Linked DNA regions of Homo sapiens: region 1 is reported to be linked to region 2. Evidence: microRNA targets listed by miRTarBase, many of them from high-throughput screens and not tested one by one. Region 2 holds a microRNA gene; the other region holds the end of a gene's coding sequence.

Region 1 (4,391 bases), not on the chromosome of region 2:
TTAGCCTGGCAGTTTGAGGCTGCAGTGAACTACAATTGCACCACTGCATTCCAGCCTGGGTGACAGAGCAAGACTCTGTCTCAAAAAAACCAATAAAAGCAAAAAGCTATGAATGCATTGATTTCTACAGACTTGACTGCCTTTACAGGAAGCAAAAAGTAACTAGCTCATTATTCTGAAAACAGGCAAATAAAGAGGAGGATCAAGCATTTTCTTGCCTTCCCTGTATGAACTATATCTAAGGGTAACCTAAGTTAATGAAGGGAAATTTCTTACAATATTCCAACTACTAAATGATGAAGCATTTACAGAACTAACGAAAGAAGCAGATCTAGGCTTCTAAAATCATATGAAGAGAAACAGGGCATGTCACAATCTATAATGTGTTCTTGCCAAAATGTGAAATATGAATCTGATTACACCACTAAACACTTCTACATTTTTAGATAATACAGAAGGCAGGGAAATATGTTAAATCACGCCATGGGTATGCAAACAGAAAATGCAGAATGATTAGCTGGGCATGGTGGCACATGCCTGTAATCCCAGCTACTTGGGAGGCTGAGGCAGGAGAATCGCTTGAACCCGGGACAGGGAGGTTGCGGTGAGCTGAGACTGTGCCACTGCACTCCAGCCTGGGCAACAGAGCGAGACTCCAGCTCAAAAAAAAAAAAAACAACAGAAAATGCAGAATGTAAAAAACTCTCCAGGATAAATGATCGAGTTTTTTAAAATGAATAAATCTCAAGAAGAAAAGGATAAGTACTACAGATTATAAGCCTTAAGAGACAAAGCAACAAATTATATTATATTGAAAAATTAGGTGGGTTCTTAAAATTCACTGGATATTTTGACATTAAGGAACTGTTTTGTTTTGAGACAGGGTCTTGCTCTGTCTCCCAGGCTGGAGTGCAATGGCACAATCAGGGCTCACTGCAACCTCAACCTCTTGGGGTCAAGTGATGCCCAGCCTCAGCCTCCTGAATAGCTGGGACCACAGGCATGCACCACCCATGCCCAGTTAATATTTGTTTGTAGATGAGGTCTCACTATGTTGCTCAGGCTGGTCTCGAACTCCTCTCAAGCAATCCCACCTTGGCCTCCCAAAGTGGTGGGATCACAGGTGTAAGCCACCACACCCAGCCGCCCTTACCTTTTACAGGTACACACTGAAATGGTTATAAACAACACTTGGGATACACTTCGAAACTTCAGTGGGGGAGGAAGACGGGGAGGAAGGAGTGGACAGAGATGAAACAAGATTGATTATGAGTTTATAATAAAGTCAAATGATAAATACATAAGGATTTATTTATATAGGTTTGAAATTATCTATTATAAAAAAATTTCTAAAGAATAGAAAAATACAGAAAACAAAATATTTCTTAACATTTGAATAGATATGAAAAATCAGACTACCACAATCCCATGGGAAAAACCCCCTACTTAGAGGCTTTTCTGAGACACTGTCCTAAGCTCTTGGCCCCACAGGAGATAGGGAAGAGGCCAGATAGGAAAGTCAGCAAGGCCCAGCTCCTTCTGAAGCTTAAGATATGCCAACTTGCTGAAACCCAGAGGAATGCTGGCTGTGTATGACAAAAGAGCATCTGTGATTCAGGTAATGACAAGCAGCCCCCCGAGGCCTCCCCAGTCCCCACCTGCCTTTGGAAAACCACCCTCTGGGGAAGGCCACACTCAGGCCAGAAGCCTCCCACTGAGTCTGCCTGGCTGTCAGCCCTGCCTAGCTGCTCTGATAATTACGGGGGAAAAAAAGCTGATTTTGCATGTGGACCTCAGTATTACAGAGGAGCAGCAGCAGCCCCGTGTGGACATCTCAGATACATTTACGACCCAGTCAGTGCAGCCTCGTGGGCACAGCTAATGAGCCAGGAAGACCAAGGAGCGTCATTTGCTAAGCCAAAATTAGACACCATGCTGCCTAACAAGAACAGGTGATAAAACCACGTTTCAAAGTGGGCTGAGTAATACAGCTTTGTGTTAGTCATTACCATTTACCTTATTTACAATGGAAAATGAAAAAAAAAAATCTCAGTAAAAGAATCTGGTATTAAGAGGCATCAGAAGACAAACCACATTTTGCAATTATAGGACACTATCAACAAAGGACAAACTCACTCACTCAGCCAGGGTTCAAAGGCACAGCACAATGACACAGCAGTCAGTCCACGCTAGTTATGCAGCTTCCAGAACTTTAAACAGAAATGAAACCCTTAAGTGATGGCACAATAAGGAAGCTTCAACAGTTTACAAATATTGCATCTTCTCATTTTTAAAGAAATGTATTTTTTTTTAATGCCTACAAATATCTTTATTTTTCCTGACTTGGCACTCATGCAAAACAGGTCGCTACCAGCTCATCATCCCCAGTGGGTGTCCAGGACCCCTAGTGCCTTGGATGACAAGGGTCTGGAGGGCAGAGACCATTTAGTAACAAGAGGTAGGTGACAAATGCATTTCAGGGCAAGATGCTGACAAAGCAATGAATACAGGCCCAGAGGATTTGCAGGAATATCCACGGGTTCTGAAGATCAGGTACATCCACGAGACATAAGCTCTACGAGGTCAACAGCTTCTCCCCCTATTTTATTCATGGATGTGTCTCAAGCACCCAGAAGAGTTCCTGACATGTTTGTTACAGGGCCTCAATAAATACTTGGGAAATGGGTCCAATGAGAATGGGGTGAAATTAATTTTATGAACTATAAAGTGCCATCAAATATAGGGCATTAATACTAGAGTTCATCTTTCAGACTCATTTTAATTATAACAGTTCTTTCTAGAGAACTGTTTTTTAAAATACTCTGATGTTTATTCAGTGATCAATAGCAAAATACTAACTTCCTAATAGTTGGTGTGTTGACAGTTGTTATAGTGCAAGGAATAATGGACGGGGAAGTTTTACAGATGAGGATAGAATGTTATAGCCTGACACAGATGAGGCTCCAAATAATGTAAAATTCACACAGTTGCCTGGGAGCAGATCCCAGCTGGGGAGGGAAGATCCAGCACGGGGCAGGAGGGCAGGAGTGGTCATGGGAAGATGTTCTCACGGGCACACAGCACAGATACCCTGAGAATGCCTCGGGTCATGGGCTGTCGCATGCATCCCCAACGCACAACCCCCAGAGGCATCACGTCTAGTCTCTCATTCACCACGGCATTCCCACGGCCAGGTGCTCAGAGGATGTTCAATAAATGTTTGTTCAATGGAAAAGAGAGGGGGTGGGGGAAGAGTCTGAGCTATGACCCTGCAGGCAAGACAGAGCCCTCAGGAAGATGAGGTCCCAGCTACCAACACGTGTCAAGGTTTTGCCTTTACTCCCAGCTTTGTTCGGCAGGGGGACACAGACAGTCCACTGAAGGAGAAAATCTCAGCCTGAACTGAACCGCAGGAGACTGCTTCCCTCAAACATTGGAAGAAAAATTGTTTAGCACCACTTGGGTAAGAGATGGAAGCAGCTATGCTCTCTGGAAGCTCTAAGTAAGCCAGGCCTTGCCTTTCCCGCGTTGGCGAATGGGTGGGAAGGCGATGGGACCAGTGCTTTCCTGCAGCCATCACCTTGCACCCCGCAAGGCCCTGCAGTGAGAAAGATGAATGATGGTGCTGCCTGCCACCTGCTATGCTCACTGCACCAGCGGCTCCTGGCGGTGCTGGGTCTTCTGGTGCCGGTTGAGGATGGACCTCTGGTTGAAGCTTCGCCCGCAGGCAGGACAGTGGTAGGGCTTCTCCCCTGTATGGATTCTCTGGTGTCGGACCAGCCGCTCCCCTTTGCTGAACCGCTTCCCGCACACCTGGCACCCATATGGCTTCTCGCCAGTGTGGGCACGCCGGTGCACCGCCAGATTGGCATTCCTGCTGAAGCTCTTGCCACACTCGCAGGTGTAGGGCTTCTCCCCGGTGTGCGTCCTCCGGTGCACCTGCAGGTGCTGCCTGCGGCTGAAGCTCTTCCAGCAGTCCCCGCACTTGTAGGGCTTCTCCCCAGTGTGGCTGCGCTGGTGCACCTCCAGGTGGTGTCTCTGGCTGAAGGTTTTCCAGCACTCGCTGCACACGTAGGGCCTCTTTCCCAGGTGGGTTCTCTGGTGCTTCATCAGGTATTCTCTCAGGGTAAAGCCCTTCCCACACTCCACACAGCCATAAGACTTCTCTTCGTGGGTTCGCTGGTGCCTGACGAGATTGGAGCTCCGACTGAATCCTTTCCCACACTCAGGGCACTGGAAAGGCTTCCAGAAGGAGCTGTGGGTTTTGACTTCGTCAGGCAGGGGGATGGCACCGTGCTGGGGAGGAGGAAGCCCAGGCGCACTGCCTGCAGGGCCACCAGGCTCCTGCTCACAGACCCTTCCGAGCCCAGGGCCCTGGAGAGAGGCTTCCC
Region 2 (4,391 bases):
TTTCATTTTAGAGTTGGGGGAAGAGGCGTAAGGCAGTAAATGTCCAAGGTCACACAGCTGGGACATGGCTATGTCAGGGATGGAAATCAAGTCATGAGACCAATAACTGTAAAATACCTCTCTGTAGCCCGCATGTTCTCAATCATAGGTGGGAACTGAACAATGAGAACACCTGGACACAGGAAGGGGAACGTCACACACCGGGGCCTGCCGTGGGGTGGGGGGAGGGATAGGATTAGGAGATATACCTAAAGTAAATGACGAGTTAATGGGTGCAGCACACCAACATGGCACATGTATGCATATGTAACAAACCTGCACGTCGTGCATATGTACCCTAGAACTTAAAGTATAAAAAATAATAATAAAATAAAGAAAAAATACCTCTCTGCAGCAAAAAGAAAAAAAAAGAAGACATAAACGATTTCTATTAAGTCAACAGTTTAAAATGAAGGTTTAATTACTTCAATGACCGAAAAAGTATTAACATATTCGTTTAAAGAGTGTAAAATAAGCATCCTTTACGTATCTATCTTCAAGTAAGTGATGTACAGTGCCTTAAAAACAAAACATAAAAACAAAACATTCAACTTGCAAATTCTGGCTCGCAAAACCCTTTCCACCTACCCGCATGCCCGGCACTTTTTGTTAGCATCTCTCTCTGCAATGAACCGTTATTCGAGGCACGACGACAATGTACATTTTTCAATCTCTCAGAACGTCACGTCTTACCTCCCAAGTTGCATTCTGGGCTCAAAGGCCTGTAATTTGTGTGTATTCCTTAGTATAAACCACTACACTGCAGGTGCTCACCAAAATACTCGCTGCCACACCACAGGTATTCTCACACGGGTAAGGCGAGAGGCACATTTCATCACACAGGGGACTTGAACAAACTGCACGGGACATTTCAGGGGTCCTCTTATGGGCGGAGCAGAGCAGCGGGGCAAAGGCTTTCCAGCCAGGTCCCTTCTCCATCCATTTCTCCCCAGGTGCCCGCGCCGGTTCCGCGTGCGGGTCTGGCCAAAAAACCTCCGAAGCGCGCGCGCGAGCCGCAGTCGGCGCATGCGCGGGGCGGGCTTGGCGGCGAAAGGCGCTTCCTCAGCCCGCGCGGGAGACCCAGAAGTAGTACTGAGGTAGCGCTCGTCCTCCCGCCGGTCCACCACCACCGAGTGTAGCCCGGGCCCGGCCTATTTCATCAGACACAACCCCAGAGCCGGGAGCCACCCCTACCCCGGGAGCCCTTCGCCAAGCACGCAGCTCCAGACCAGAAGCAGTCGCTCCGACCCAGAGCTCCGGGTGGGGTAAAGAGATTGCTTTTACTCACCGCCTCCGAGATTGCCTCGGGATTCGCGAAAGCCCCCGAAGGGAAGCGAGCACTTTCTGAGGCTGTGAAAGGACGGCTGCTCGCTTTTCTCTTTCGCCCTTTTCCCTCACCAGAGTGCCAAATCCTCGGTGGGAAAGCCGACCCCTCCGGACAGCCCGCGCTTTAAGGCCGGGGGCTGCCGGCCGGGCTCGGAGGCGGCCGGACCCGCCCCGCCCGGGAGCCCGCGCGACGTCACGCGGGAGTTCCACTTGCGTCACGCCCCTTCCTCCAGCTGCCCATCGCGGCGGCGCACTTCGTGCCCTAGCTGAGGAGCGGGCTCTTCGGTGCGGCCCATCCCGGAGGGCGATGGTTGGGGAGGGGAGCGCTACCTCGGAGCTGCCGGGAGCTACCCGAAGAGTCTGGCGACCGCCACAGCATTTCTGAATTGCGCTGGGGAAAGCTCAAGCCGTTCTGTTGGGGGAGCATCAAGCCCTTGCGGTTCTGTGAAAGTTATCTGTACACTGTGTCTAGCTTAAGCATTTTGCAGGGAAGCATGTGTAGAGTGACCTGTACCGAATGAAGAGTTAAAATTAACTGATGGGGGGTATGGACGCGGATCCGTCTAACATAGTTTTCGGCCTTGTCGCTGTTATCTGCAGTTTAGTGATGTGACCTGACAGGGTTGTGCGGTAACGCCATAGATCAAAACGATCTGTATTTTGCTGAGGTTAAACGGGAAGTTTCTGGCAAATTTGAAACGAGAAGGAATCTCCTTCAGCATTATTTATTGGGACAACATGCTGTTAGATAATTTTTTTTAAAAAGTCCATTTTTCTTGTGGCTGTTCGTTTGAGATTCAAACCGATAGTAGGTATTCCTATTTCTCCTGATTTGTAAAAGAATCGTTTTTAGACCACTAGAAATTCTACAAATGAACAAAATAGACTAGAATCAAATATCTTTTAAACCAGTCCAGTACTTTTGTGTAATTATTCTAAGACCTGGGAAGGGATAATATTAACAGGCTTTAAAAGTTTAGTACTTAGAAATCATAAATACAAAGTGGAAAGGTAATTTTTCCACCTGTCCCACATCTTAAGGGATGAATAAATATAACTTAAAAAGTTAGTATACAGAAGAGGGGTGCTAAACCTTCTATTAGCCTGTTACAGCAACTATCATTCACTTCCCCATTTTATAAGACTTAACTCCACATTTTTAAAAGAAAATGGATGAAATTTTGACTATGTAATTTTTAACGCAAGATAGGAAACATAATTGACAGAGTGAAGCTTTTATGTTTATGACAGAAATAACCTGTAATAAGTTTGTCATTTAACAGAGTATTGAAAGAGCAGTGTGCTGTGGTCTCTACTGTGGTCCAAAGAAAAACTGAGCAGAATGACCCAACCTGTTCCTATGGCCTCTGCCTGTGTCTCACTCTCTAATCCATTTATGCAAGTCAGAAACCAAAGAGTCATCCTTGACACTTTATTCATCCCTAACTTCCATATCCAAGCCATCACGCAGTCCAATTTTACTTACTAAACATGTAAATCCATCCCCTTCTCTCCATCACTACCTCCATAATCCAAGATACTGTTATTTCTTACCTAGTCTACTGCTAGGCTCCTTTCCACATCCACGCTACCAACCACCCCTCCTAAATCTTTGTTTTCACTGGTGTTCAGAAAAAAATTTGAACTTCTATTCTCCATATATATATTTAATTTTAAATTACATACATGTACTGTTGAAAAATGGTACATGATCTAATGAAGTTACAGGCTCTGAAGTCAGACATCTGGGTTTAAATCCTGCTCTAATACTTCCTTACTGAGTGACTTTGGACTGACTGCTTAAGCTCGCTGTCCCATTTTACCTACCTGTAAATTGAGGATAATAATAGTACCAACCTCACAGGGTATTAAGATTAAATGAATATATGTAAACTGCTTAGTATTCAGATATATACTATGTGCCCAAAAGCTAGCCATAATTAGTATTTCTTAGCTAATATGATTATAATCCATTTTAAAAGCATTTTTAAAGGATAAAAAATAGAATAAAAATACATCTTCCCTCCTCCACCTTAAATTGTGTCTACTTTGAGACCACTTCTCTATACTGCAGCTACTGTGATCTTGAAAAGTAAATCTGTTAATGTCACTATGCTGCTTAAACCCTTTCAGTGGCTTCCAGTTACTCTGTGAAGGAAGCCCCTTTGAATTGCCTCTGCTACCCCTTTGGCTTTATTTCCAGACATTTTCTGTCCTCTGGTCTCACTAGACTTTTGATGTCTCCTAGGCCATTGCGTGCTATTGTCTCTGCCTGGAGTTCTCCACCAAACCTACCCCCACTCTTTGCCCCAGCTATCTACTAATCATGTTTTTATCTTATTTCAATAGTCTCTTCTACTAGATCCTCCTACAGTACCATGTAACCTCCCCATCTTACAGTTTTTATTGTTTTAGTTATTTAATTAATTCTGTCTCCCCACTGGACTGTAAATTTCTTGAGATAAAAAACCACGTCTTGGGCCAGACTTTGGGTGGCTGAGGCAAGAGGATCACTTGAGGCCAGGAGTTCAAGATGAGCTTGGGCAACATAGTGAAATCTTGTCTCCTATTCTAAAAATCAAACCAAAATAGCTGGACACAGTGGTTCGTGCCTCTAGTTCTAGTTACTGTGGAGGCTGAGGTGGGAGGATTGCTTGAGCCCAGGAGTTCAAGGCTGCAGTGAACTATGATTGTGCCACTGTACTCCAGCCTAGGTGACAGAGCGAGAGACCCTGTCTTAAAATTAAAAAAATAAAAAATAAAAAAGGTTTGTTCACCCTTTTATCTCCAGGAACTAGCCCAGTGTCTGCCACCAAATCAATATTCTATGAATGAATGAAATGGGCATTCCCTGGTGGATCCCATTTCTATGTAAATGGAAACCTTTGGGTACATTCAAAATTCTTAGATTTTTAAATGAGATTTTATATGGCCACTTTAACAATGGAAATGGCGGGCATCCTCATAGATAGGTTCTAAAGCTTTAAGAACCACATGGAATAAATTTTGAGGTTCCAAAGATCTGC

The links. The annotated mature microRNA hsa-miR-4741 reads CGGGCUGUCCGGAGGGGUCGGCU and lies in region 2 at 1,463-1,485, opposite strand. An mRNA with a match to its seed (bases 2 to 7 or 8) in the 3' UTR can be bound and repressed. Matches are read on the target gene's strand: a 7mer-m8 pairs with bases 2 to 8, a 7mer-A1 pairs with bases 2 to 7 and ends in A, and an 8mer does both.
Region 1: the mRNA of ZSCAN25 is a reported target of hsa-miR-4741. Seed matches in the 3' UTR shown: 8mer at 3,111-3,118 and 7mer-A1 at 1,975-1,981.

Annotation. Positions count from the first base shown.
Region 1 is chr7:99,629,275-99,633,665 of GRCh38, reverse strand. It overlaps ZSCAN25 (zinc finger and SCAN domain containing 25), which reads right to left. Exons shown (of 8, transcript NM_145115.3): 8 at 1,258-4,391. The coding sequence ends at 3,646. Among named protein-coding and RNA genes, the nearest start is that of ZSCAN25, 15 kb to the right of the region's middle. RefSeq lists an enhancer at 3,183-3,829.
Region 2 is chr18:22,930,501-22,934,891 of GRCh38, reverse strand. It overlaps MIR4741 (microRNA 4741), which reads right to left and starts at 1,543; the gene lies at 1,454-1,543. RBBP8 (RB binding protein 8, endonuclease) reads right to left here and starts at 1,564. Exons shown (of 19, transcript NM_002894.3): 1 at 1,328-1,564. It overlaps RBBP8-AS1 (RBBP8 antisense RNA 1), which reads left to right and starts at 1,128. Exons shown (of 5, transcript NR_198963.1): 1 at 1,128-1,304. RefSeq lists enhancers at 771-820, 1,181-1,310, 994-1,834 and a silencer at 1,441-1,520.